Regions from separate parts of the Homo sapiens genome. Here regions 1, 3 and 4 are each linked to region 2. Evidence: fine-mapped expression QTL. A gene starts in region 2. Each other region holds a variant in brackets. All regions are shown on one strand. Distances are from middle to middle. Region 1 overlaps EPDR1 (ependymin related 1). Region 2 holds the start of EPDR1 (ependymin related 1). Region 3 has its middle 53 kb from the start of EPDR1. Region 4 overlaps EPDR1 (ependymin related 1).

The links.
Region 1: its variant is fine-mapped to the expression of EPDR1 in lymphoblastoid cells (GENCORD, PIP 0.95).
Region 3: its variant is fine-mapped to the expression of EPDR1 in whole blood (INTERVAL, PIP above 0.99). The same link has a PIP of 0.9 or more in platelets.
Region 4: its variant is fine-mapped to the expression of EPDR1 in whole blood (TOPMed, PIP above 0.99).

Annotation. Positions count from the first base shown.
Region 1 is chr7:37,939,834-37,947,487 of GRCh38, forward strand. All of the region lies in intron 1 of EPDR1 (ependymin related 1), which reads left to right. Among named protein-coding and RNA genes, the nearest start is that of EPDR1, 23 kb to the left of the region's middle. RefSeq lists a silencer at 4,394-4,688 and an enhancer at 7,626-7,654. The variant T/A (reference allele first, on the strand shown) is at 3,800.
Region 2 is chr7:37,917,356-37,925,009 of GRCh38, forward strand. EPDR1 (ependymin related 1) reads left to right here and starts at 3,285. Exons shown (of 3, transcript NM_017549.5): 1 at 3,285-3,853. The coding sequence starts at 3,585. RefSeq lists a silencer at 3,530-3,979.
Region 3 is chr7:37,970,138-37,977,791 of GRCh38, forward strand. No RefSeq gene overlaps it. Among named protein-coding and RNA genes, the nearest start is that of EPDR1, 53 kb to the left of the region's middle. RefSeq lists a silencer at 5,170-5,464. The variant C/T (reference allele first, on the strand shown) is at 4,059.
Region 4 is chr7:37,951,719-37,959,372 of GRCh38, forward strand. EPDR1 (ependymin related 1) reads left to right here. Exons shown (of 3, transcript NM_017549.5): 3 at 1-218. Among named protein-coding and RNA genes, the nearest start is that of EPDR1, 35 kb to the left of the region's middle. The variant T/G (reference allele first, on the strand shown) is at 3,902.

The sequences.
Region 1 (7,654 bases), 22 kb after region 2:
TAATATATTGCTGATAGGCATGCAAAATAGTACAACCCTGTGGAGAGAAATCTGGTAATATTTAACAAAACCACAAATGCTTTTACCTTTTGACCTGGTAATTCCACATCTAATAATTTACCCTAAACATACAACTCCAAAACAGCACAACACAAGGTCATTATTTTTGTTAATATCAAAGGAATAGAAACAACTCAATGTTTATTGGTAGAAGACTGGCTAAAGAAATAATGATATTTGCACACAGTAAATTTACATGGCCATGAAAAAATAGGGATAGTCTGTAGGCATTAGTGGAGAATGGAGAAAGCAAGATGCAGAAAGGTCTATATGGCATGCTACTCTTTCTGTAAAGAAGAAGAGAAAATAATAATTCACATATGTAGTTGCTTATTTTTTGACAGGCATGCAGGAAAAATAAAATGGAAGCAGTTGAAAAGTGTTATCTATAAGGAGCATGAGGAATAGGGAAGAGGAGATAGGGATGGAAGGGGAACTTGCCTCAACGTACCATTTTCTGTCATTTTGAGTTTTGAAATATGAAAATTTTTACATATTTAAATAATAAAATCAGAGAGGAAAAGTGTAAAGTCCCTGAATTGGGAACAAACTAAAACAAAGGAACCTAATGATCTATCAATCTGGAAACATAACCACACAGAGAATAGGCTTATTCTAAGTAAATTTTTGACACAATACTGACTCTCGATACTAGGGAATTATATTCTAAGGATAAGAGGAACTACAATGAAATCTTAAACTTCACTTGGCAATTTTGTTATTTATAATAGTTTTGAAGTTATTATTTCAAAATCATAGAATAAAGCAAATAAATGTTTTTGTTAATGTTTTTAGGAAGCATGATTTTTATTTTAAGAGGAAAGATATATAAAAGATATACAAAAAATAGGGGGGAAAACCTGTAATGTTAATTTAAATGGAAAATATCTATATGAATTCGAGTTTTTTTTTTCTAATTGGAAGCTCTGACCACTTGAAAAGCATTCAAAGCAATGTCATCTCAATGGCAATGAGCCCATCTAGTGCCCTGATGTCAGTTTCTAAGTTGTTTCCCCACTAAGGGTAACTAGAGTTTTTTAGAGAAATGCCTGATTTCAGATCTGGGACAGGGAAAGTCCAAGGTTAGCCTGTGCCACCTTGTGTCGTAGAACATCGGGAAGCACTCAGAGACTAATAGGATTATGTCAGAAGATACATGTACCAACTTGAAGGAGCTCCCTCTGGCCAAACTTGGGTAAATTTTAGCATCAAAAGGAATAATGACTTTAATTGTTTGTCATACATTGAATAAATAATAAATCCATGAGTCCAGAGTGGTACTCAATAGACTAAGATAGATGGATGTCATTTACTATACCATTGGTACTATGATCCTAACTCCCAGTGAAATAATTGATTCAGGAAACGGATTTGCCTAAAACCATTAGGTGACAGTTATTGGGTAACAGGACATTTCCAACATCACAAAGTATCACTCATCAATTACTTGCCAATTGCAAAAGGAAACACTTTTATAACAGATATCTGGAGTCACCATATAACTTGGTGATCAAAGTTAGCAGCATTAATAGTGGGAAGGTACATCACCTGTCTTCAGATATGATAAAGTCCAAAGTATACAACCTCACCAATGACATGTTATTTACAAACATCTTGGAACTCAAATCGAAAAGAGCCTTTAGACTTCATATCCATTTCATAAGAATGACAAACGCTCAAATAGCAATTTAAATGCCACCATGAGGAAACTGCCAAAGAAATCCACATTGTGGAATATCTGCAAACCTGAACTCTTCAAAGAGTCAATGTCATGTTGGAAAATAAAAAGGTAGGAGTACTGCTCCAGATTTTTGATAGAGACATAACCAAATATAATGCTTGAACTTTAATTGAACTCTGATTTGAAAAACCAGCTTTAAGATGTATTTGGGGGGCCACTTGAATATGGAGCAGATATCAGGGAATGAATTTTTATTTCTAAGATACAGTCCTATTGTGACCATGTGGCAGAAGCTCTTGTTTTAAGGAAGTATTTAGAAAACTAGAAAAAATACAGTAAAATGTAGAGAATTGTTGAGCCTAGGAGGCAGACATAAAAGTGGTCATTATACTAGTTCTCCAACTGTTCTGCATATTTAAAATATTTTATAATAAAAATTAGAAAAATTAGATTTATCTTTTTACTTAAAAGATTATCAAGGGCAAATTGTTGAATTTAAAATGCATAGTTAGAAAACAAATAAATGATAGGCACTCATTTGCGTAAAATGAGTATAGTACATATTGAAAAATCAATCCAATGTTTGTACACCTATGTTTATAGCAGCATTTTTCACAATAGCCAAAAGTTAGGAAACACCTAGGAATCCATCAGTGGATGAATGGATAAATAAAATATGGTGTATACATACAGTGGGATGTTATTCAGCCTTAAAAAGGAAGGAAATGCCAACACATGCTACAGCGCAGATAAACTTTGAAGATATTATATTGACTGAAAAGAATAAATATTGTGTGATTCCACTTACATGAGCTATGTAGAGTAGCCAAACTCATAGAATGGTGGTTGCCAGGAGTTGGGGAGAGGGAGGAATGGGTTATTATTGTTTAATGGATATAGAGTTTCAATTTTGCAAGAGTTCTGGAGACTGATGTACCACAATGTGAATATATTTAACATTACTGAACTGTACACTTAAAAATGGCTAAGATGGTACATTTTTGTCACATGTATCTTGCCACAATTAAAACATAAAAATTTAGATATAAAAATTAATACGTACATAAAGACATATTTAGAAGAATATATGTCCAGACACATGTACAGAGTTGTTATTTCTGTAAATTAGAGTTTCTTGGCAATTTTTGCTTCCCTTTCCATCCCTAGATTGCTTAATTTTTTTATATTGATCATGAATCTGTTTTACTAAAAAAAAACTATTTTCAAAAGCAAGAAAACTTCCCCAGATTTTCGGTGTTTCAGAAAACATGGTGATTCGAGAGCCTACTTTTTAGGGAAATGGATTTGCAGGAAACAATGGAAATTGTCAATGTAACCTGAGAATTTTAGTAAAAGCAACAAAAATCCTTTGTCCCATATGGTGAGAAGCAAAACAGGCCGCTGGCCCGTCCTGTGTGTTGTGGTTGCCGTGGAGAGCTTGGCCTTCTGAGCCTTTGGCAGGGCCTAGCCAACCTGACCTTGCTCACAGCTGAGGCTCAGCAGCAGCAGGGCCTTTGTGGGAACTCGCCTGCCCCTCCCAGTGAACTATGCTTTGCTTGGTGCCTGGCCAGCAAGGAGGCGAAGTTTGTCTGCTGTTGTTGACCTGGGCTGGTCTGCCTCCCTGTCCTGAACACCAATTCCAGCATCTCACCTTGCTTGACTGTGCCCCAGCGGGGGCGTTGGTGCCTCTCATCTCACAATTGCCTCTGTGACAGAGCCAGTCTTTGATCTCGCCTCCAGGAATCCAATTCCTCTCAAAGTCTGTTAATCCCTTGGGTCCACGGGTTATTCCCGTACAGCATCCCCACTCTGATTACTCATCTCAACCGTGGCTGATCTTTGCATTTTGACCTTTGGTCCCTGTCAGGCCACAGGCCCTGTATTCTATTTGTGATGCAGAGACTTATGTCCTAACTGTTAATATGTTCACATAAACACACACGCCACTACAGTATCATTAAAATGTTTTCTAAAATTTGTCATAGAGCAGTACTAGCATTTATATCCACATGGGATTTTGAAAACAAATTATATAGTTCTATTTTGTTTTCCATTAAT[T/A]TATTATTTTCAGTTTAACTTGAGGTACAGTCAACATAACCTCAATATCAGATGATGTCTACTTTTAAAAAAGCAAATATTTTGAAAACATAGAAAAGTACAGAGAACACCAAAACGAACACTTGTGTTCAGACCACCCAGATTTAGCAAATGTTAACATTTCATAGTGATTGTTCCGGGTCTAAAATTCTCATTTTAAAATTAAATTTTACTTCTGTATGTGGGCAGAGCGGGCCTCAGGGAAACAGTGAAGCTGTGAGTGTTCCCTCCCTGCTGTCCCCTGCCCTTCTGTTGCAGGTGACTGACCAGGCATCTGTGGCCCTTGATGCCACACAGGGCCATGCTGGGCCTTTCCCAGCACAGCTGTGCTGGCAGCTGCTCCCCGGGTCTCTCCATGGAGCACTGGAGTCCTCAATTCTAACAGAAATGATAGAACTGAGTAGCATAAAAAGCTGCAAGCCAAAAATGAAGGAAAGTTTATTAGAACAAAGGAAGCTTATTGTAACTCTGTAAGCGGGGGTGCTCCAAGCATCTCAGAAAAAAAGAGCCCAGGAAATGAACAGCTGTTGGAATCCCAGTTTGCTAGTGCTTCTCTCTGCTTCATTCTTTAATCCTATTCCATTTGCGTTTTGGAAAATAGCCTCCCTCAGCTTCGAAATTTACATGTGGTATGTCCAGCCACATAAGAGGCTGACTATTAGACCTCGGTTGCCATGACACAGGTCGAGATGAAAGAATCTCATTGTCTCCTCTCTGGTCTAGTAAACTCTGGTGAGGAAGGTAAATATGAGGCTAGAATGACATGTATGACAAATATGAGGCTAGGAGGACTGTATTAGTCTGTTCTCATGCTGCTAATAAAGACATACCTGAGACTGGGTAATTTATAAAGGAAAGAGGCTTAATGGACTCACAGTGGCAGAAGAAGGAAGAGCAAAGGGACTTCTTACGTGGTGGCAGGCAAGAGAGAGCTTATGCAGGGGAATTCCCATTTATAAAACCATCAGACCTTGTGAGACTTATTCACTACCAGAAGAAAAGCATGGGAAAGAACCGTGCCCATTATTCAATTACCTCCCCCCAGGTCCCTCCCATGACACATGAGAATTATGGGAGCTACAATTCAAGATGAGATTTAGGTGGGGACACAGCCAAACCATATTAATGACACTTCTGTGATCCTGTGGATTTGGGGAGTGATGGCGATGATTTCAAGAAGGAAACCCCCTCTCCTGCACATGGCTACATATTCTCCAGGGAACAACTATTGCAGTCTGAGAAGCACACAACAGGGATATCAGCAAAAGCTAGGAATGCCTTTCTAGCCCAGATATCTAGCACTGGGGAAAGCACAAGATATTGCTGGTGGTGAGGAGAACAATGAAGACAACTTGTTTTTTGGGTGGCCCACGGGTCATTAAAAGTATCACAGGACAGGATTTGTGTATGGACAACAATTCCCATATTTACAAATGAACAATGCTCTAAGAGTTGGGTTAATGTTGCTGTGTTTCTTCAATCAGTGCTTAGGCTCTATTGTGTCAGAGATTTAGCTGGTTATGAGAAAACAGTGACAATCCAAACCCAAACTTTTTCAAAGGGCTAACAGTTTTACGTTGACCCTGCATGCATATTATAAAAAATTAGCTCCATTTTTGAGCAATATCTCATAAAATGCACACTTATATTTCTTTCTATATTCATTCTCATTTCTAAAGGTATGTGTCTGGGTTATTTTTACCCTTGTAAGCCGTTTCAAATCTTTTCTGAAATAAACAAGATACACATAAAGGTGTAAAATGATGTCATGTTTATATTTCCATACTACCTCATAGAAACCTGAAGCATACGGCTACTAATAATACAATGATGTGCTTCATAATGACGTTTCAGTCAATGAAGTGGTGGTCCCATGAGATTACAATGGAGCTGAAAAACTTCCATTGCCTAGTGACCTCATAGCCATAGTATGTGGTAGCGCAGTGCATTACTCACATGTCTGGGGTGGTGGTGGTGTAAACAAACTTACTGTGCTGTCAGTTGTACACAATTCTAGCATATAAGTAATTACTGTATTATACTTTTTTTTCTTCAACTTTTATTCTAAGTCAGGGGTACATGTGCAGGATGTGCAGATTTGTTACACAAGTGAACGTGTGCCATGGTATCTTGCTGCACGGATCATCCCATCACCTAGGTATTAAGCCCAGCATCCATTAGCTATTCTTACTGATGCTCCCCCTCCCCCAAGCTCCACCAACAGGCCCCAGTGTGTGTTGCTTCCCCGACGCGTCCATTTGTTCTCATCATTCAGCTCCCGCTTATAAGTGAGAACATGCAGTATTTGCTTTTCCGTTTCTGTGTTAATTTGCTGAGGATAATGGCTTCCAACTCCATCCATGTCCCTGCAAAGGACATGATCTTGTTCCTTTTTATGGCTGCATAGTATTCCATTGTGTATATGTACCCCATTTTCTTTATCCACATTTTCAGTCTATCATTGATGGCATTTAGGTTGATTCCACGTCTTTGCTATTGTGAATAGTGCTGCAATGAACACAGGTATGCATGTATCTTTAGAATAGAATGATTTATATTCCTTGGGGTATATACACAGTAATGGGATTGGTGGGTTGATGGTATTTCTGGTTCTAGGTCTTTGAGGAATTGCCACGCTGTCTTCCACAATGGTTGAACTAATTTATACTCCCATCAACAGTGTAAAAGTGTTCCTTTTTCTCCACAACCTCGCCAGCATCTGTTGTTTTCTGACTTTTTATTAATAGCCATTCTGACTGGCATGAGATGGTGTCTTTTTGTGTTTTTGATGTGCATTTTTCTAATGATCAGTGATGTTGGGCTTTTTTTCCTATGTTTGTTGGCCACATGTATGTAATTACTATATTATACTTTTATCGTTATTTTAGAGTGTGCTCCCACTTACATAAAAGGTAACTGTGAAACTGCCTCAGGCAGGTCCTTCAGGAGGTATCCAGAAGAAAACATTGTTATTATAGGAGGTGACAGCTCCATGCATGTTACTGGCCCTGACAGCCTTCCAGTGGGACAAGATGTGGGAGTGAAAGAGGGTGATACTTATGATCCTAACCTTGTGTAGGCCTGGCTAATATCTGTGTTTGTGTTGTAATTTTTAACACAAAGTTTTTTTTTTAATAAAATAAATTTTAAAATAGAAAAAAGCATATCAAATAAGGACATAAAGAAAATATTTTTGTATAGCTGTGCAATTTGTGTTTTAAGCTGTCTTACTACAAAAGAGTCAAAAAGTTTAAAAAATCAAAATGTATATAAAGTTAAAAAGTTACAGGAAGCTAAAATTAATGTATTATTGAAGAAAGGAACATAGTTTTTATAAATTTAGTGTAGCCTAAGTGTACAATGTTTATAAAGCCTACAGAAGTGTATAGAAATGTCCTAGGCCTTCACATTCTGTCACCACTCACTCACTCACTCACCTACCCAGAGCAACTTCGAGTCCTGCAGGCTCCATTCATGGCAAGTACCCTATACATGCGTACCATTTTTTATATTTTATCCCATATTTTTACTGCACCTTTTCTATGTTTAGATACATAAATGCTTACCATTGTGTTACAGTTGCCTCCAGTATTTAGTGCAGTCACATGCAGTACAGGTTTGTACCCTGGGAGCAGTAGGCCATACTGTGTAGCCCTGTTGTGTAGTAGGCTGTACCATCCAGATTTGTGTAACTGCACTCTATGATGTTCGTGCAGTGATGAAATAGCCTAATGACACATTTCTCAGAACATAAGCCTATCATGAAGTGACGCACGACTGTGTTTTGACTATAAAGACAGTAACCATTTCTAACAT
Region 2 (7,654 bases):
CACTCCGCCCTTAGTTGTGTGGAGTGTGGTTTGTTGTTGTTGTTGCTAGTAGACAGTTTGGGCCGAAATTTTTCCAGTATAACACTTGGTTTGTTTCTGCTCCAGGAAGTTAACAGAACTGGGGGAAGGTGTGCTAGCATCTTCCAGCTTCAGAAATGTCTTCTAACATTTCCTCTTCCTTCTAACTCCCTGTTCCCCTCTGCAGCATTAGTGGAACCCAGGAGAAAACATTGGGCACCACAATCTGAAAGGTCTCCCCTGCTCTGATCCTTCATGCCAAAGGATTTCCACCTCAGCAGCCTAAAATCTTGATTTTTGATGTGCTCAGAGACTGTTGCTTGAGTTGAGTAAGAAGCTGTGTACTATGGGATGCAAGTATGTATGTTTTGCTTTCTCTTTTATCTTACTTGCATTAGGAAAAGGTAGTCCAATTGCTGGCTCAGCTATCTACAGAAAAGGGAGGATTTATTTATATGAGATTGATGTATATCAATCTTCAGGTGGTAAGACTTCTGGTATATGCTATTTATTAGGGCATCAGCAATATGGAAACATGTTCTCTGAATGTTAATCTTTAAAAACATAGTTTAACTTGAATTTAAGGCACATGGTTTTTCTCTCCAAAGCTTAAACCTACACAATTAGTTTAGTTTTGACTGAGGATTAAAACTAAAGACTAAGGATTAAAACAGCTGAGGAAACAACAAGCACAAGTGACATCTATTGGGAATTTACAATGGTCAAGGTATGAAGCTAAGAACTTTAAATGCATTATCTTATTTTTTAGGGAACATGAATTAAACATAGTAAGTGAAAAGGATAAATGAGACAAATACATTTCAGGATTCATCCAAAGAGTCTGGTTCTTATTTAGGGGAAGCCCAGGGTGTTCTTACACTGCCAAGCCACTCTAGAAAGGTAATCTAGTTCCTATAGAACCAGTCTCCACCTCCAAAGATGCCAAGCCAGGCTAGTAAAATATCACATGAGGAGGAAAGCCCAGATGACATCTCAAGCCATTTCTAGCAGTAAACTCCAATGAGTCTAAACCCTTCACTGGGTGAAAAAGATTTTCAGCTGGAGTTCCTACCTGGGGAGCAAGAGAAAGAGCTGAACTACCCTACACTTTTCCTATGAATCTGAGCAGGGCAAACTCGGAGAGGGCTCAAATTTCTGCAGCCAGTTTGAACCTGCTGCATCTGTTTAACTATGTAAGTACCAAGTCACAAAGTCTTATGGGCTTCCCTGATGTTCTCTGAGGCATGCCCTTTAAGAAAAGGTAAGAGGAAATGAAGAGCCCTTCTTCCTAAAGCTTTGTGCCTGCCCCATTCGGCCCATTGGTAGTGTCTCTGGTGGTTCGACAGACAGGGGGCAGCAGAGAAGGATGCATCAGGAAAACCTGTCAACTGTCCCTCCTCTTCGGGACTTCCAGGGAGGCTGTGATTCTAGAACACCCTACTTCAGCATTCAGTCCATTCTTTCCATGCCTTACATTTATTTAACAAGGCTCGGGAAGTTGCCTCATTCAGTGGCTTCTCTCTGGTGACTCCTTTTGGTCTCCTCAAGTGCCTGTTCTTTGCCCATCCTTTAAATGTCTGGAGCTCTCTGGGGCTCCATCCTAATCCTTCTTCTCACACTCAACACTCCCCTGAACTCCAGGTTTTCTCACCCCCAACACTTAGGACATTTGGGGCCAGATAATTTTCTCTTCATTTGGGAGAGGGGAGGTGGCTGTACTGCACATTGTAGGAAGTTTAGTAGCATCCTTGGCCTCTACCCACAAAATGTCAGCGGTAGCCTCCTCCCCATCTACATTGTGATCATCAAAAATGTCTCCAGATATTGCCAAATGTTTCTTTGCTGGGGAGGGGGATGTGAAATTTCCCCAGGAACCACTGTTCTACTCTTCGGCTTCATTTACCACCTATGTACCTATGGCTTCCTAATCCAAAAGCTCTGCTGGTTTCCAGAAGTATTTATCCAGCTGTCCCTTGGATATTTCCACCTTAATACTCCACAGTCAGCTCAAGATCAACCAATCCTAAAATGAATTGATCATCTCTCCTCACTCAGGACTGGATTCCCAGTGGCCCAAACCAGAAACCTCTCTCTCTGAGTTGAAATGCTTCTCTACAGCTCCCACCTGTCTTCCACCCTTTCCATGACCACTCCCGCTGCCTTAGCTGAGTCAGGATCATCTCTTTCCAGGATGATAACAGTAGCTTCCTCCTCTCCCTGCCTTCCCTCTGGCCCTACCCTTTCTGTTGTCTAAGTGGGCTTTCTAAAGCATATGCCTGATGATGCTCCTCCCTAGCTTTACATTGATTGATAGTTCCCACAGTCCTCAATATCAATGACAAATTCCTTAAAATGAGTGCTATGGCTTCAGAGTACTCCTCTACCTTGTCCTTGAACCCCAGCATTATTCTTTTCTTGTCCTTATGCCCTTCATTCAGGAATGTTATCTCCCACTTTCACCTGGCTCAATCTTAATCATCCTTGAAATGCAGTTCAAATGGAAAGACGCTATACATTTTTTTAGTTCCTTTCTTTTTTCTTGATTTCATACTTTATCACTATATTTTTAGAGACAGGGTCTCGCCATGTCACCCAGGCTGGATGGAGTGCAGTGGCATGATCATAGCTCACTGCAACCTCTAACTCCTGGGCTCAAGCGATCCTCCCACTTCAGCCTCAGGAGTAGCTGGGACTACAGGTGTGTGAGCCTCGCTCATTCCATATTATAGATCCTAACATTACATAACTATAAACCCAATTAACCTTATTCTTGAAGAAGCGAAACCCCCCAGACACCCAAACCACTCGGCTGGTGGTATTGCCAGGCGATGGGAGGAGCAGTCTCACTGCAATGTGACCTTGAGGCTATGTCCATGAGTCCTAGGCCCAATGCAAGGGGCTGTCTACTAGTCTCCTAGACTCTTCACTGGGAATGGGAGCTGAGGAGCGGCCATGATGAATAGCTAGTATCATTTCTTCAGGAAAAGACTCGTCTTTCCACTTTTAATTTGGAGGAAGAAGTTTGCAATTTTGTCGAGGGGCAATGTAGGCGGGGCAAACGTTTGCACAGCAAACGCAGCAGCTCTGCTTTTCCTATCTTGACCTTGAACTTGCCCCTCCCTGTGTGATTACCTGTTGAACACTGAAGTTAGTGGAGAAACACACTTCTCAGCACAGTCTCCCCCCATCCCCCCTCTTAAAACACGATGCCTCCCAGGATGCTAGTGGCACCACTGCCACTGCATTTCCTGTTGGCAGCAGTGAGCAGTGAAAACCGAAGCGGCAGAAGGCAGTGGCAGCAGGCAGTGGCAGCAGGCAGTGGCCCAGGCAGAAATAGCTCCCGCGCGATTCACTGGAGCCTTCCCCGGGCCCTGGTCCCGGCTACCGGGACTCGCGCGTCCGGATCTCAAAAGCGGCAGAGGCCACCGAAGGGACAGGAAGCACTTTGGTCCAGACCACACTCCCGGCACAGTGCGGAAAGAGCCGGCGGGAGCCACTCTGATCCCGGACGCCTCAGCGCCCCCTTGGGCTTGGGCTTGCCCTCGGGCCGGGGAAGGCTGACCGCGATGCCAGGACGCGCTCCCCTCCGCACCGTCCCGGGCGCCCTGGGTGCCTGGCTGCTGGGCGGCCTCTGGGCCTGGACCCTGTGCGGCCTGTGCAGCCTGGGGGCGGTGGGAGCCCCGCGCCCGTGCCAGGCGCCGCAGCAGTGGGAGGGGCGCCAGGTTATGTACCAGCAAAGTAGCGGGCGCAACAGCCGCGCCCTGCTCTCCTACGACGGGCTCAACCAGCGCGTGCGGGTGCTGGACGAGAGGAAGGCGCTGATCCCCTGCAAGAGGTACAGGTCATCGGCCCGCGGGGCGGGAGTAGGGAGCCGCGCGGGCATGGGGAGGGCGAGGTCGCAGAGGCCTGCGCCCTGTAACTCTTTCCGGCCCCTTGCAGCTCCTCCCTTCTCCCAGAGAGATCTTTCGCGAGGAGGGTCTCTTGGGGATAGCATGGTCCGGGACTGGGAGGGGCGCTGCGCCCACCGAGGGCGGCCTGCTGGCGGGGGACTCAGTAACACCCAGCGAGGCGGTGGCAGGTAAAGAAGGGACCCATCCAGGGCGGGATCAAGCTGCAGAGTGCCCCATGCCCAGGTTCGCCCCTGTTCTCACGCTGCTGAGTCAGGCTCTGGGCTCATGGAGCCCCCTGCAGTCTAGGGCGTGTCTTCTGCGCTATCTCATTTCTTTCTAGAGACATCTGCTAGAGAGGCACGCAGAATATGTATTTTCTAAGAAATACTTTTTGTATTTTAAAAGAATATGGCAAGATTACAAACGGTATGGGAAAGTGATAAAAAGAAAATTTCACCCACAAACTTAGCAAATTGTTACAGCATTAAAATTTTGGTCTACTCCTTTTAAGTTTTTTGTTTATTTTAAAGCAAATTTTACATACTATGATCAAAAGCCATACGTTATCTGAATCTTTTTTTAACTTAACATTGTCCCTTATATGTTCTTATTTGCCATTTTATTAGCTTGCCTCCTATTTTTAATGGCTGCACAGTATCGCTTACAGGGGCAAAGCTGTAAGTTTCTTTTAAGTATTGGTCTGACCATTCACCTTTTCACATCTGTTGTGACAAAGGAAACCCTCTTTTTGAGATGTCATCTCGCTTGTGGCCCCTTTAAGACCTGATTTCTAATTTGGGATCACCACCTGTCTCCCTTCCAGAGCCCTGCCGTTCCCCCTAAGTGTGTTCCTCTCACTGGCCTCTCTTTATGGCATTTGCATCATTAGGAGTTGCAAAGTGAATTTCCATGGTTTGAAACGCCAATGGACTGTAAGATCTATAGCAAAAGGGCACCATTAGTTTATAGAACAAAACCAAACTTGATAATATCATTTATTCTAAAAGCATTTGTTCAAGTATTAGGCGACTTGAAGAAAGTACGGAAAGGGCAGACCCTTTCAAACAATATCAAGGGTGCAAAATAATGCATTATGAAATGCAGCACAGAGCAGCACAGTCATCATGGTGGACTGGGAATTGATTCGAAGTCTTTCAAGAACATGAATGTTTTCAGTAGGGTCTTGAAGGGCACAGTAATAATAATAACAACTAACAGTTGCATACTTATTATATATGAGGCATGACACTGAGGACTTTACATCTATTATATAATTTAGTTTAAATCTCACAATAACTTGACAGTATAGGTTTTATGATCTCCATTTTACAGACAATAACTCTGAGGTCTAGGGAGATTAAGCAACTTTCTTAAGATCACACAGCTAATGCTTGAGGAAGCTAGGGGGGGGTTCTGACGCCTATGGTATACCAGGTTCACATTCATTCATTTATTTAACAAGCATTTGTTCATGTTAGGCACTGTGTATAAACAGAATGGCTCCTGGCTTTCAGGGAGGTCAGAGTCTGGAGGTGAAGTCACATAAATAAAAAAAATTTCCATACAGTGGGATGAGGGGTGAGAGCTGGGGTTGTGATGAGAAGAACTCAGTTGGGCACCTAACCCAGGCTTCCTGGAGGAGCTGAAATGAGAGTGAGTTCCAAAACACCTGTACAGGTTTTCCAGGGAGATGTGGAGAGACTGCTGGTCCAGGGGGATGCAGGTGTATCCATGCCTGGTATGTGTGTGCCATCCCGGAGTTTTTAGAGCTGAGTAAATTCCAAAAACCACAGACCACTCACTATTAGGGCTGAAGCCCAGGACATGGCGAAGGGTCATACTGAGGAGTTTTAAACAGTGGAATTTGTGATTAGATTATATAAAGATCCCTGGATGTGTCCTTAAGAATGCATTCCCAAGATGTGGACACAAAATGGAGCCATGTGGAGCAAAAGTGGAAGTGAGAACACAATCTTGGAGATTGTCGTAGTGGTCCAGGTGAGAGATGGGTAGTAGCGATGGAAATGGTGAACAGGGGGCAAGTGAATGCATTAGGGAAGTATTGAAGAGGTTCAACTGAGGAAAATGTACATGATTGGACGGGTTGTGGCAGGCGTGGTGAGGGAGAGGAAAACGTTAAAGAGGCCCCCATTTTTGGCTTGTGAAGCTAATGGTACTGATGGCATAGGGTAGATGGTGATGCTGTTCCTTGCAACAGGGCTTGACTTTGTGCACTTCTAATTAAGGGTGCATTGGTATCCTATGTAATTTTATGTGAAGACTTGTACAGTAGTGGCGCATTGATGAATAGTCATATTGAAGATGGACTGGGATGGCCGAGAGCACACTGCTGAAGCAGAGGAGTGTGTCAAAGAGAAGGATAAGGGTTCATCTCTCCAAAGGTAGTATTTTTTTTTTTACAATTAAAAAAATTAGACTTTAGAGTCAGACAAATCTGGATCTGAATCCAGACTCTGAATATGGGTCTTTGGGTAAGTTAATAAAGCTTTCTGAGTCTCAGTATCCTCATTTACAAAATGTGAATACTTATAATGCCTAATTTATTGGATTATTATGGGAATTAAATGAGCTCAAGTGTATAAAACATACAGTACAATGTCTGATAGTACGCACAAGATGCTCTGTTCATGGCCAAGGTTGGTCCCATCGCTACCACTATCATCATTATCCTGGTAAAGTTACCATAGCCCAGAGACTTGCTGCCAGCCCTTTGGGCTCAGAAACTTGATACAGCAGCACACACAGACCCTTCCTTTGGGAACAACCTTCGAGTAAGGAAACTCAAATGCTAAACCTGTCTACTTCAATGAGTCTTATTGCTGGCATGAGGACCAGCATTCTCAAATCCACCAGACTAGGTCATTCTCTCCCTGTAGTCAGAACTATGTGGGGAGCCAAATTATCATCAGGCAGTTGTGAGCAAAGAGTTGGAGCAAATTCATTGAGCAAACATCTAATGATTGCCTGCCCTAGGTTAGGCTGTATGCTCAATGTGGAGTTTTCCATCATGAATAAGACAGGCCAGCCTGGGGTAAGGTTTAATGGTAATCAGGCAAAGGCAAAGTGATGCATTGATTTTCACAATAGAGATGACTTGGTGGTGGTTCTGTGCTACCCCAACTGTGCTGTTCCTGACCCCTTCCACTCAGAATGGACCCTTGGTGAGTACTGCTCAAGTCTGTCTGAGCAACCCTTCTTCCATGACTCCATGACTGACTAATATAGCCTTTAGATGTGTGTTTTATACCTTTAGTGGAGTCACAGCCAACTCTTGCTGGCTTAGAAGCATTTTTGTCCCTTTGCGGTGATTTCTCATTCCTCTGCCCTAATCCAATAGGTGCTGGTTTCACAGTTAAACTTCTAAAAGACATTGTTTTCCCTTTCTTTCCGAGTTCTTGGCAAGGTTCTTTCTGACAGTCACATCGCTGGCCCTAAGTCAGATGTGGAAAAGAATGTTTAATGCATAAACACATTTTTAAGCTCTTTAAGTGTAGATTTGTTGGAACAAACTCAGAAACTTTTTCAGGTATTAACAGTCTGGCCAAGCAACCAGATGTTATTTGAAGAAAATATGGATGAGTTGTCTCTTCATATTTATGAGTAAGTTGAGAAGTAAGTTTTAGAATTGGATCAACTTCTTAAGATTTTCATTTTGCATCCAGATAGTTATGGAAAATCCCATTGATAGTTACTGTGGAATGACTAGGATTTTCCAGGCTCTGTTT
Region 3 (7,654 bases), 53 kb after region 2:
CTATGGATAACTGCTTTTGAGAGGATGTTCCCAAACTGGTATCATTTTAGCTATTAAGATAAATTTGCTACAGGGCGGAAGAGAATAAGTCACCTCTGAGGAGGTGTGAACAGTGACTGGTGGGGTGCTGGCCGCAAGGCCTCCCTGCTCATCACTGGAAACAGTTGACAGATAGTCTGCCCTTGTGTGCTCTCCTGATATATAAAACACATGCTTTGAGTTTGCTGAGGTTTCCACTCATCTTTCCCAGGGCACCCTGACTCAGGGCTCCAATCACCCTCTGCTGACATCTGTGTGGGCACAAAGCATCCCCCCAGCTGAGACGGCATGAAAGGAAACCAACACATTAATGCACTTGAAGGTCACTGTGGCAATGTCTGAAAATCAGACTGCAGTAAAAGTCTTGGTGCATCTGATTCTCAGGCAGAAATACTTCTCAGGTATCTACTGTGGAAGATAAAGAGGAAGGGTAGAGAAAGAAAGAGAGAAAGGGAAGAAAAGAGGCAGGGAGAAAAAGATGCAAATGAATATTTGCTAAACACTACATGATTTACTTTCACAGGCGTAGTTTATTTAATCCTTACAGACAGCCTGGCAAAGTAGGTATTTTTTTAAAATTTTAATTTGTATAGGCTCAGATCCATGAAGCAGGTCTCCTGAACTAAAGACAAACAAACAAACAAAAAACTAGTAATTTTTTCAACAAGTTTGGAATCAATCATTCTTGCTTTCCTTTAAATTTGATCTTCTTTCAACTATACCACAAAGCCTTGGTCACTGATTTGGGGAATTAACCAGAACTTCTGTGTCATTCTGGGTTCTGTCACTCTTGTGAGGACTCAGCTACCATTGAGTTCTCTGTGCTTTTTCTTTGCACAACTTGTACTGAACCTGTACGTTTAAGTTGAACCAACACAGCCAGAAACCCAAACCAAATGGCTGACAGCAAATACATATAAGCCAGGGACCCATCAGTTCAACTGAGACAATCTCCTCTGTCCTATCCCTTAAATTTCTCCCATCTTATTACAATTTTTTTTCCTTCTAGTCTAGGTTTCTCTTCCTGATTTGGCTCAGCTTATACTCTTGGATGTGGGAACTTATTTTTACTGGCTCTAACTCAATACTAATTAAGGATTTTCCTCCTGGGACACCAAAGGGTGGTCTTCCTGGACTTATTTCAGGTCCTTGAATGCTTTATGACTGAAAGCAAACTCCTCATACTTGTCTACCTGGCTGGTACTCAGATGCTCCAACGCTGAAGCCCTGTAGGACAGGGGAGATTTTAGAGAGGACATGGAGAGGAGAATCCAATCAGAGAATGGCCTTTGGGCACTCCAGCAATGGCTCTCATTAGCGGATTGTACTTATCCCCCTAGCAGGAGTGTTATATTGAGGAATTTGAAGGAAATTTTGTCTAGCAAGAACTGTCTGCTTTAGTCATCATTAACGGACTACATTGAGCAAGTGGTCATTCAACCAAATTCTCATACATAGGGCGAATTCCTTTCTGTTCAACTCAGTTAGTCATTCTATCCTTGGGGACTCCAAAAGGTTTTGTGCAAATCTCCATTAGGAATATACAGTAATCACTCCCCAGCAGTGAGTTTCTTTGTTGGGTAATTCCAATAAATGTGTCTCTACTTCTGGATTTCTTTTCCTTACTGCCCAGAATTTTGCCTCCATTACCCATGCACTTTAAATTCTTGGGGAGGTTTATGTCCTCATAATAAGCTCTAGCCGTGACTTCCAGGTACCGGTGAATCATTCCATGCCCCATGCTTGCTGCTATTTTTTGTTATTCACATCTTGGCACTGATTGAACATAGATCCAACCCCTTTCTATTATTTTTACAAAGAAACAAATTACTCAAGGTCTTTACTGCAATTTTAGGCAGATAGAAGGAGCTTACAGGCAGTACAGAATGCACCCTAAGATTGGACATAAAAATTTCTGAAAATTCTCATGGAAATTGTAGGCACGTGACTTGGTCATCTCTTTAAAAAAAAAATCTTCTTTCTTTTCTCCTCTCTCATTCCCATATTCCTGTGTTTTTCTAACTGAGAGCAGTTGAGCTCTTTCTTTAATGTCCTGTTGTTTTCTAACCAATGCTCTCAGTGACTCAGCTCCTAATCTCAAGTGGTTAATTAAGGTATTTTGCTAATTAAGTCAGTTGTTTCCATGAGAGTTGACTACTGGTATGATTTTTTTTAACAGAACATAAACATAAAAGCATTTATTGTTAATAGGGTAGTAATACACCAAAATGGATGTAAACACATATCTTTCCTTTAATCCAACTCTGCGGGTATTTTTTTTTTAAGAAATATACTCCAGTCTGGGCATTCACTGTCTCCTTGGCAGAAGCATATTTATAAGTCATCCCACCCCTCCCTCCAGGCCATGTGAGAAGAAACACCTGGCAAACAGACTCTGAGCTGAGCATCTCACATCTTCTGGAGCTTCAATGATGAACAGGTAATTCCCCACCTGTCATCAACATCATGCTATATCCTAAAAATTAGGCAGAGATATGTATCAATTTATTTGCCTAATAAGCAAACCAAGTTAACCAGTTATTAAAATAATTTTTTTCTCACCCTTCACACCAAAAGTCAAACCACTCTGTGTCTCTGGAAACTCAGTGAACCCAGTCAGAGGTAGTCATGAACTTGAAGTTTGAAAATAGGAAAAACAGAGGACATTCTATTTTGGTTATTGCAGGTAATAAAAATAGGCAGTTTAAAAGGCCTGCATGTTAGTTCAAAACACTCATCTGATTTATGCCTTTAAGAACTTAATTTTTTCCCTTGACTATTTTGAGAAATCTTACCTTTATGATTGATGAGGGGCTGCTGTATCTTTCTGAATTATGATTCTTTCCAAGTCTTCCCTGCTCTGTTCTCCAAGCTTCTTTAAGTGCTAGTAAATGTAGATTAAATGAATGAATGGTAGATAAACAAAAGAATTTCAGAAAGAGAACAGAAGGAAAGAAGAAGAAGAGACAGACAGAGAGGAAAATAGAGGAGATATGGGAGAGAGAGAGAGAGAGAGAGAACTGATTGCTGTAATTCATTTATTTAAAACAACATTATCTAGAATAGTCAGTATCACCTAATAGAAATGTGTTATTTAAGGGGAACACTCAACCCATCAGCAATAAAAAAGCAGCTAGGACACTCCAACTGATATTCCATATCATAAACTAGGTCAATATAATTTATTAAGATTATGTGATTGATAAGGGAAGTAACTTTTCTGGTTAGATTTTGGGGAAATAGTGCAAAAAAAAAATACCAATGTTTACTGTCCATTTAAGCCCTGTGCTCATGTTTTCATTTTTGTGGGAAAAGGGAAAAATGATTCTGGATCATGCCATTCCTCATTTCTCTGACAACACTCTCTCAAAATTCTCACAGTACAATATTGTTTTAAATACTCAGTGATCAAACACTTTCATCTGAAACTAGAAAATATTTAAGAAGAAATAAGACAACTGGTGGTTTTATCCTCATCATTTTCTTTTCCTTCATCCCTTCCTTTCTTCAAAACCCTAGCAAACGTCATACGTACAAAAGAACCGCTGCCTAACCACAGGTTTTAATTCAAGGAAGGCAGAAATTTCCTCTCCCAAATAAATTTCAAAATAATGAAGCCAGTAATTCAATAAAGGAAAGAAAAATAATATTTTCATGGAGGAAAGTTGCCTACTAATGCAGTGCCACAGTTTTCAATCCAAGCTGCCCCCAAGCCTTGATAGTGGCCAAGAAGACTGATTTCCCAGAGAGTCTCCAGAACAGGAGTCATCAGGGACATTCTCTTTCTTTCCTGCTCCATGATTGTATCTGGTGTGGTCACCATGGAAAGACAGGCCTTCAGCTGAGCTGCCTTTGAACTGTGTGAGCTTAGCCCTGTTTGAGTTGAGACAGGCACTGAGAGGCATAACTATGGCTCTGCATTTAGTCCACATCAATCAAGGAATTGTCATGTCTCTTCCTGACTTTGTCTTAAGCACCTTGTAGGACAGATAAGAAGCAGTATTTAGAATGTCAGAGCA[C/T]GACTAAGGGGTGTAGGTGGTCAAACCTCATAGGGGCATATGACTAAGCTTTCATTTCTGAACAATGGTGATAACAACAGTTTCAGAAAGCACCATTTCTGGAACTTTTACTTTTGACACTGATATTTTGCCAAGAATTTACATGCATCTTTATAGCCAATGATCCTCATTATAGAAGGATGATGATCACTATTACCACCATTATTCAGAAGAAGTAACTGAGCCTCAGGTAGGTTAATCAATGTACCCAGGTTCAGTAGGGCACACCCATGGAGAAGCTATAGTATGGAATTCAGCTGTCTGCTGAAAATACCCATGTTTTTAACTGCTATGCAAAATGATGTATTTATTATGGAGAAGTCATTTTAAAATCAGGTAGAAACATATAAATTTATGATCCATAAAACTTAAAAGTGTTTACCCATTGTTTGTTGAGTTGTGCTCTGGTGTAGAACCAAGGACACTGGCCTCCAAGGGTGGTCCTCCAGCTAAGTTGTCAATCCTATCTGTAGCCACTCCTCTACCCTCTGCTCCAACCACCCTCAACGGCTTATATTCCAACATACTTCGTGCCTTTGTTTAAGCTGCACCATCTGCCTTAAATGTCTTTCTCCTGTCTGAGCAGCTCAAATCCTGCTCATTCCTTACATTTTGGCTCAGTTGTCACGTTCACTTAGAAACTGGGAAATAAGAGAAAGTTGAAGAATGGTTCTTTAATTGAGTTGTGAACCTAGCATGTGTTTTGGTAAATTTGATACTGGTGTGAGTGAAGTGCTACCGCATTACAGAGCCTTTGTGTTTGCCAAGTGAGAGCAGACAGTTCCTACTTTCTGTATCCACTGTGATTCTCCAAGAACAGAAGAAGATTTCTCTCCAGAACAAGGAAAGCAGGGCTGAAAAGCTGCCATTCTGCCTGCAAAATCTGTAATTCCTGTATATTCGAGAGAAAATTTACGCATGAGGGAAGCTCCCATGTTCTTACATATAATATAAATGGGAAAAGTACTAAGAATGTCCAATGTCCAATAAATAAGTCTTTGATCCCTCATGAAATTTTTGATACCCTGCTCCTCTTTTTGCAGTGTGGGTTTATTAGAATTACCTTATCAATGGCATATCAGGTTTCTATTCCTTCCATTAATTTAAGGAAAACGAATGAGCTATATATGCATCTGTGGATAATACATTGTTGGTTATCACATTCGGCAGCTTTAGTGCAGTAGCAATCCCTCCAAATCCCAGTGACTTAACCAAAACCATATACTTGTCACTTGACTTTGTGCATTAGCAGCAGCTTCTTATCTAGGCAGCTCTGCCCAATATGTCTCATTGAAAGCTAAAAAGTGCTCATTCTGGGCACTAGGCTGAAGGAGCAGCGCTTATTTGAGATATATGGTCCTTGTGGCAGACAGAAAAGAGTAAGATAGCTAAAGAAAACAATCAATGGCTCTTAAAACTTCTGCTTGGTAGTGAAGTGTGCACACACACTCACTTTGCGTGGACCAAATCAAGTCACATGGCTGAGCCTGACGGCAATGGGCATGAATATTTATCCCTTCCATTGGAGGCACTGCCAATCAAATTGCAGAAGGTGGGGACATATAATCCTTTTAAAAGAAGGGCAAGTGGCCAGGCATGGTGGCTCATGCTTGTAATCCCAGCCCTTTGGGAGGCCAGAGTCGGTGGATTGTTTGAGGCCAGGAGTTTGAGGCCAGCCTAGGTAACACGAGGAAACCCTGTCTCTACAAAAAATTTAAAAAATAAAAAAATTAGCCAGGTGTGGTGGCACATACCTGTAGTCCCAATTACTCTGGAGGCCGAGGCGGGAGGACCGTTTGAGCCCTGGAGATTATGGCTGCAGTGAGCCAAGATCATGCCACTGCACTCCAGCCTGGTGACAGAGTGAGACCTCATCTCAAAAAAAAAACAAAGAAACAAAAGAAGAGCCAGGAAGTTGTTATTGGTTATACAGTTGGTTATGGCTACTTAGATATTACTTATAATGGGTGTGACCTCTATTGCGGATTGTCATAGCCCGAATTGTGTTCCACCCCAAAAAATTCATGTTTGGTATCCTAAACCTCAGTGCTTAAGAATGTGACTGTATTTCAAGATTGGGTCTTTAAAGAGATAAATAAGGTTAATGGAGTTCATTGGTGTGGGCTGTAATCCAATAAAACTGGGGTCCTTATAAGTAGATGAGAGTAGAACACAGACATGTACAGAGGAAAGACCACATGAAGATGCAAGGAAAAGATGACCATCTGCTAACCAAGAATAAAGGTCTCAAAACATCGGGCCTCAGAATTGTGAGAAAATAGATTTCTGTTGCTGAAGCCACCCAGACTGTGGTACTTTGTAATGGCAGCCCTAGCAAATAGACAGTGATGAATAAATTAGCAGATTTGATGACATTGATATTTCCATTATTTATTTTATTCAACACCTCTAATAATCTCTATTATTATATTAAACATTTACTCTGTATTAAGTATAGTATTAAATGTTCTATATACATTATCTGTTTTATTCACTCAAGACAATTCTATGATGTAAGTACTACTATTTTCCACATTTTGTATATGAGAAAATGTTATATCGATAGCTTGAAGGGTTTGAAGAACTTGTCTAAGTTGACACCCAGGTGGGGAACTGTGATCTGATCCTAGGTCATCTGAATCCAGAATCAGCTTTCTGCCACCATTATCAAGGGACATTGGATATTCTGTAGCATTTACTAAAATCAAGAAAGTTAAAAAAATATAAACATGAGAGATCTATGATGCCCATCTTGAGGAGTTCACAATCCAGTTGATAAAAGAAAAGAAGAAATAAGTATAATCCTAGAGAAGATAAGATAAATGTCATGTAAAACACTCTGTCCAGAATTGTTATTTATAACTTGGATGAGGAAATTGATGGCACAATAATAAATGTTGCTGAAGATGCAGCTGAAAGAGATGTTATTCCTTGGATAACACTCAAAATTTTAAAAAGGTGATACATAAAACTATCTTGTCAGGCTGGAACGATTGGCCAAATCTGGAGAAACGATGCATGATGAACAAATAAAATAAATTTCTAAGTACAAAAAAAACTGGATCAGAACAATAACAACAAAATAATGTAGTTTGTTGTGTGAACAAAGGTCATTTTAGTTTCATATTAGTCAGCTGTATCACTCATTGTGGACTAAGTCATTCAACAAACATTTATAGGGTGGCTCCTAGGAGGAAGTGGAAGGAAGTCACTGCTCTCAAGTTGTCAGTCCAGTGGTGAGAGAGACACATGAGCAAATCATGATACAAGGATCTGACAGATGCCTTTAAGTGAGTCTGAATGAAGCACCTCGGTAAATGGCAGAGAAAGGAAATAATTTTTGTAGGTTCATGAGAAGAGGTTGAGATGGGAAGGAGTTTGCTGGGCAGAGAACCAAGTTCATGATAATCTAGGAGGAAGAACAGTAAGTGAATATTCAATTGTATGAAAAAGCTCTCCCCTGTTTGGAATGGCTGAAATACAAGTTAAAACACCAGCATAGGATGAGGCTAAAATTTTGACTGGGATTCGGTTTTGAAGGGCAGTACAGTTAATGC
Region 4 (7,654 bases), 34 kb after region 2:
TCTGCCCATTTATCTTTCTTAGTTACCAGGAGAAATGTGTGACACCTATATTATAATGAAAACAATCTCATTACTTATAGTTTATCTATATTAAACAAATTTAATTGCATTTTAAAGCATTCTTTGATACTGTTGCTTTTGCAATAAATATGGATAATCTTGGTTATAAGGGAGTTAAAACAATGCTGTAATAAATAAAGTGCTTCATGTGATCAAAATCAAATTTGTTATCCTCTCTCAAAAGCCTGCTCTCCCTCTTACCTTCCCTAAACTCCAGTGTCCATTTGCCAAGGCCAGAAGCTTCCAAGTCATTCTTGATCCATTTGTCTCCCTCAGTCCTCACTGGCAGTCAATATCCCGAGTCCTATCAAAATAGCTCTTAAAACTTCTGCCTCTTCTCCACTCCCTCAGCCACCACCCAGCTCTGGGCTCTTAACATCATTGGCCTTTGCAGGATCTTCACACCCTCTGTCCTTGCCCTCGTCTTTTTTCTCTAGAAGCCATCCTGTGTTCATTCATTCATTCATTCATTCACTTGGTCAGCCAAATCACAAGCCAGTACTAAGCACCTGCTCCCTCCAGTGCCCATGCAGGTTCCTGGGGTTGCAGAGGATTGTGAAGTTTGGCCATGCAGGCATCTGAACCTCACAGACAGGGAAGAGTTTCGCAGCTGCATTCTAGGTGGCCCAGCCTGCTAACGCCTTTGTGACCATGTTTGCCACACTTCCTGTCTCCCCAACCACAGAATGATCCTCTCCTCTCCAAGCTGCACATCTCTCCTTAGCCCTGGGACTTTGTCTTTGCCCATTGCAGGCCACAACCTTACTCAGAGAGAGAAGGAAACTCCTTTTATTTTATGGAGGCCCATGCAAAGTGGGTACCCTTTTGTTTTTCAGTTGGCCTGTTTTGGTTATTAAGCCACTTCACAGAAAGGAGTAAAAAGTCCAGAAGGATTTGACATCTGGTCACATCTGATCTGATGGCGCCCTGCCTCTGTGGTTCTTCACTGCTTACAAGTAAAGTGGAGACCCCATAGCATGGTGGACACACCCTTTTTCATCAGGCCTCTGAGTCTTCCCAGCCTCACTCCTTGGCACAGTTTCTTCTTTCCCTAAATGCCCAAAGGGCTTGAGGAGTAATGGCTGGGTCACCTCTTGGTGGCAGGAAGGTTTCCTTACTCTGCAGTCTTATGTAAAAACTTTCTAGTGGCCACCAGAGTCACAACGAAGAGGGCTATTAAATAGGTGTGGACTTGTACCTATTAATAAAGTGCAGTATCCCAGTGCCTCACTCATCTGCAGAGGTGGTATCACTGATAGTGGTCTGAGCCAGGGCTGGGTACCACTTTGTGGATACCCCACCTCATATGTCTCTGAACTTTATGCTGCACTGGAACAATTTACTTCTACTTCTCCAAATGAAGCCTTGCCACTTCCAAATTGCCAGGATCCAGGCAAGCCCCAGGGTGTGCTTGACATACACCTGCCTTCAACTCTGCCACCCTGAAGGCCCAGCTCTACGACAGAGCCTTCACTCCCCCTATCTCATGGGCCATGTGGAGTCAAGGAGGCCCAGCCTTTCTGTCCCCAATTGCTCTGTCATCAGGGTGAGTTTCTTACCATAAGCTTTGCTAATTGAGATTCCTAAAATTGGGACACATTTTAAAATTCTTTAAATATTTAATGAAGGCCAAGAATTTTAGGTCTTTGGGAAATTTTTCAATTAACTACTAATAATTTCCCGCCAAATTAAATTTGACATAATTTGAAAACAAAACGCTCACCTCTTGCTGGGTTTCCTTTACCAAATCCACTTTCTCTGCAGTCCCAGCTACTCAGGAGGCTGAGCTGGGAGAATCGCTTGACCCCAGGAGGTGGAGATTGCAGTGAGCCAAGATTGCACCACTGCACTCCAACCTGGGCAACAGAGAGAGACCCTGTCTCAAATAAGCAAACAAACAAACAAACAAACAAACAAATAAAAGCCTTCATTTTCTCAATGTTGCCTCTGTTATTTTAAATCACTTTGCCTATATATCTACCTGCAGCATATGGGGTGTTTTTACATTTTTCCACTTACGTAGATCTTGTCTTTCTACATCCACAGAAAGCACCTCAAATGCAGGAATGCCATTCTTGTCATTCTTGTTGAGTGAAAATAATTTATATTGAATGACAGAGTAAGCCTCCTCAGCCAAAGACTTGTGAATAACTGGTGATATTTGAAGGCTTTGTAGGTGAACACCTCTTTAAGAGACAAATTTAACTTTATTTATGGATATTCTGATATCAACAACCATCTCTTTTTGGAATGATGCTAAGATAATAAATGATTAGAACATATTTTTATTTGTTTTAAAGCAGAATTATTAGCTCAACTGCATGTGTAGAAAAAATACTGGGCCTATGATTTGTTGTATAGTTTATTCAGGGAGAGAGATGCTTCCCTTAATGATATCCTAATTTTAAAATTTATACTGTTTTCATTAGAGCAAAAATGAACACTTATTTTCAATATTTATTTCATATTTAAAGTTGGAAAATATAATGTAGTCTCAGCATTCAAGGAGTGGGCTATAACTATCCTATAATTTAGAAATAATATCAAAGACTTGGAACCAACCCAAATACCCATCAATGTTAGACTAGATAAAGAAAATGTGGCACATATACACCATGGAATACTATGCAGCCATAAAAAAGAATGAGTTTATGTCCTTTGTAGGGACATGGATGAAGCTGGAAACCATCATTCTCAGCAAACTAACACAAGAACAGAAAACCAACCACCACATGTTCTCACTCATAAGTGGGAGTTGAACAATGAGAACGCATGGACACAGGGAAGGGAACATCACACACTGGGGCCTGCCAGGGGGTGGGGGGCTAGGGGAGGGATAGCATTAAGAGAAATATCTAATGTAGATGATGGGTTGATGGGTGCAGCAAACCACCACAGCACGTGTATATCTATGTAACAAACCTGCACGTTCTGCACATGTACCCCAGAACTTAAAGTATAATAATAAATAATAATAATAACTTTTTTAAAAAGAAATAATGTGCAATGAATACAACACACTCAGGATTTAAGTAATCTGAGTATATGCATGTGTTGTGTTGTGGTTGCAGTTATATCATTCCCAATGGCATATTGTATATTTATTTTAACATACAACTGTTTAAATCACACAGCTAAGTATTCCTTTCCTTCACCAAGATAACTGATGGCAAAATAGGTACTCTTGTTACTTAAACATTACTAGCATTATTGCCATTTTTACATAACCTCTATGATTTTAATAAAGAAAATTATGTAAAAAAAAGAAGTCAAGGCATTATCTGTTATTGTGAGAAATGGGTTTTCAAGCCTAGAATATGTTACTTAATAACCTCTCAGCCCTAGTTGATTAGTTTCTCAGTCAGCCTGGGAGAATACCTGTTGGGAAATCACTGGTCTTAGTTTCCCAATCAGGAGGCACCAATCTAACTATTGAAAAGTCCCCAGTTAACCAAATACACAAACCTGCTTAATTAAAAGTGTAGTTTTGGGATAGACATGTGGGTATTGATATATGTATTAGAAAAACTTAGGGTCTGTTGGTTTTGTTTCACTCCTGATACCAGAAATGATACCTTTCTTGCGGGATCGTGGTATATCTGTCCTCTCTTATTATATAAGTGCATTTTAGCAAAGCTTAGTTTTATATTAAATTCAATTATAAAATGGGGGATTCTTTTTTAAGAAAAATTAAAATGTGTAAAAACTAAATTGAAAATCTTTGATGAGGAAAAAACTAAGATAAAAGTTGTTTCTAAAGCAGTTCTGTGATCACATTAGTTGATGGGCACATACGGGAAGCAGTTGCAATTTAGTCTCTTTTCAGAAGAGCCCTTTGCTT[T/G]TAAAGAACTTTCTGATTCTAAAGTGTTAGGTGACCTTGTCTCAGTAGCTGTGGCATCTCTGAGGGCTTGGGGATAATGAAGTGAAGATGTAGACTGCCCTGTCTTGAATGATCTTAGGACATTTTAATAACCTTAAAGTGGACATTAGAATAATGGGAGTGGGCAAAATGACATCATCTCAAGCCCAGGAAAAGTGTATGTTTTTATGATGTTTCTTATAACTTAAACCTCCCTGTACTTAACACCTTTCATAATTTCCTCCAGGTAAACCTATGTTCCTATCACCATAACTCTTATCACATAAAAAATAACTAATAGCACTGCAAAGATGTTTAGATGTATTTTAAAACTTCAAACATCTTGGGACTGAAGACGTTACTTAGATCCATATATGTCCTATCCTTAATACAAAAAATATCATGATGATAGCAATCCTATAATCCTATCTAGCTCAAACTAACTATATCCCAAGCAGCAAAAAGAGGTGAAGAAGAAGGAGCAGGAAGGGGAGGAGGAGGACACGAAGAAGAAGAGGAAGAAGAAGAAGAAGAAGAAGAGGAAGAGGAAGAAGAATAAGAGGAGGAGGAGGAGGAAGAGGAAGAGGAGGAAGAGGAAGAGGAAGAGGGAGAAGGAGAAGGAGAAGAGAAAAAGAAGAGGAAGAAGAGAAGAAGAAAGAGAAGGAAGAGGAATGGAAGAAGAAAAAAGAAGGATGTAGGGGAGGAGGAGAAAACATTTATCACCATAAATTCTCAGTCCAAAGGGCTGTTGATGTATACAGATGAATAAACATGAGAGTAGCACAAGCCACAATGGAGCAGCACTTTAGAGATTTTCAGTTCAGTTGCCTCCCCTTTAAGTTTCTCTAAATTAGAGCATTTCCAGACTAAACGTTCTTTCCTGAACCATGAACCATTGGCCCCGCCTGTCAGAAATTTAGAATTATTTCCATGTCTATGTACCTCATAGTACATGTTGACATTCAATGAGGAATAAAAATAGCCTTAAAAAGAAAGCCTGCTTGTTCAGGGAATAATTTCTCTGCCTTTTCAGTTCAATACATTTAAAATGAGTTTTATTTTGTCTTCTCAAAACAACTAAAGTTCAGTATTATGGTGTATTCAAGTGTGTAGGTATTGAACCTCAAAGGACTTTTTAAGTTTAACTTTGTATGGAAAGTATATGATTATGTAGGTAGTCTTTGGATAATAATGGGTTATCAAGTGATTTTGAAAACTCTCAGATCCATCTTATTCTTTCTAAACCTCTTACTTTCCCTGTTCAGTCATGAGAACTCTGTATTTCCTGAGTGAAGAAAGAGGAGGAAACAGCTTTATTGAGGTAATTCAAATAGCTCAGATAATAGAGGAATGAGAGTCTATTATGGAATTTGCAGTAGATGTCCCTAGAATGGAGATAAGTAAAAATTTTCCCCAGACTCCTGCCATATGTAATCATTCAGTACAACCATCCTGTTCAAAAATAAGTTTGTTAACAAATTTTCCATGTGTCTCTAGAAGAGTGGTCATCAACAAATCAACTTAACAAAGTCAGGCATAAATAGACTAAATTTAGGTGCCCCAAAGTTGGAAATAAGATTAAGCTCTGTGATTGAAAATATAGGACTGATACCTAATAAATGGATAAAGTAGCTATTTAGAGATATACATCACAGAAAGAGAAGGTCTTCAAGTTTGGGGCTATAAAACTGGAGAAATCATGAAGTCCGATGAAAGCAAGATTGCCATTGAAATGCAGTCTCATCAAAGTTTAATCAGAATTGGGGCTGATGTAAAAGAACACTGGAATGTTGTAATTTCGTCTGAAAATGAAGTGTTTTCGCAGAAGGATGTTGGTTTACATGGAGTTTAGTTAGGGAATCTTAAAACCAAGGATTTGGCAGTGTTTATCTAACTGTGTCCAGGAGAGAAAAATGTGGAATCTGGCAGTCATATACAGAATGTTGGGGACAATTATGAGATTAAAGTCATGTGTCATTATTTTGCCTAAGATTTAGGAATATTTCACTTCACTCTCCCTGTCAGGGATCCACAACAGAGCAAGGTCAGGAGACAGCAAAGCAAGTCATCACCGTTACTTAGCTGGAGCTCTGGCCCCGAGCACTTCTGTGGACGTCTGGTCAATCAGGCTAGACCAACTGGAGGAAGTGGAGGCCAAAGTAGCCGCAGGCCAGAGCAGGCCAAATTACTAGTTCTGTCCATTCTACTGCAAGTCCCAACACAAGTAGATCTTACCGCTCCCAGGTCAGCAAAAGGGCACACAGAGTAGACCCACTGGCGACAGAGGAAAAGGAGCAAGGACAAGGAAAGAAGTTTGTGCCTTGGTGCCCAATGCTGCCTTCCTCAGACCTTGGGCTGGTCAGAGCAGTAGCTAACCTGCATGGGAGGAACATCCAAAACAGAGAGATTTGGCCAGGCCTGTTGGTCAAGCAGAATCCAATAAGCTCAGAATGATCCCTCCAAACTAGGTAACTTTTCTTCTGATTAGAAATTTTACTTCTCAAGTAATTTTTTAAAATCATAACTGAATATCCAAAATGGCAGATTTAAGTATTTCACTCACTGGAAAAGTTTAAAACATCATTGCAAAATAATGCAATGTTTTTCTGATTTATTTCCCAGTCTCTTAAGTTAAATTGCTTAGTGCATGTCAGTCTGTAAGGGAGGCTGTGCAGTGTAGTAGAAAGGATGAGGATTTGAAACCATACTTACCTGAGTTCAGATGCTGATTCTGTCCGCCATTACCACTGTGTTACCGTGGACAAGTCATTTGAACAGTCTATGAACCTAAGTTTCCTCCACTTCTAACAAACAAACGAACAAACAAAAAAGGTGGCATATGGGGGTTGTTAGGGTTAAATGAAATAGCATTAGAACGTGTGTAGCACACAGCTTTGCAGGCAATCAGCACTCAAAATATTAGATGTCTTCTACCTCTGGCTTCTTTCCCCCTGAGATCCTGATCAACCCTCCATGGACCAACAAAATCAAACCTGTATGACTGTATGAATCTGCTATGGATTAGAGCAGGGTCCTGGAGGCCTACAAAGGCAGTGCCCTCAGTGGGCTCTGCTGGACCCGTCAGCTAAACCATTCCCTAAGGTATCTCTGTCTGTTCCTCATTGCTCACATTCGTGTGCAGAAACATGCACCCACCTCTAGCCATGCTCAGGCAACGTCAAGTATAATATACATGTAGTTTAAAAAAAAACCCCAGCAACTTCCCCTTAATAAATACATCTCTCATGAACCCTGGCATTTTGCACATAACATTTTTTTTTTTTTTTTTTTTTTTGAGACGGAGTCTCGCTCTGTCGCCCAGGCCGGACTGCGGACTGCAGTGGCGCAATCTCGGCTCACTGCAAGCTCCGCTTCCCGGGTTCACGCCATTCTCCTGCCTCAGCCTCCCGAGTAGCTGGGACTACAGGCGCCCGCCACCGCGCCCGGCTAATTTTTTGTATTTTTAGTAGAGACGGGGTTTCACCTTGTTAGCCAGGATGGTCTCGATCTCCTGACCTCATGATCCACCCGCCTCGGCCTCCCAAAGTGCTGGGATTACAGGCGTGAGCCACCGCGCCCGGCCAACATTTTTAAGATAGAGAAAATAACAGTAGTATCAACCTCAATCTACATCAGTGAGCACTTGTTTTGTGTCACATTCTCTCCAGAGTTTTATACTGATTATTTTATTCAACCTCAACAACCATCTTTGAATTAGCTACTATTGTTATTATG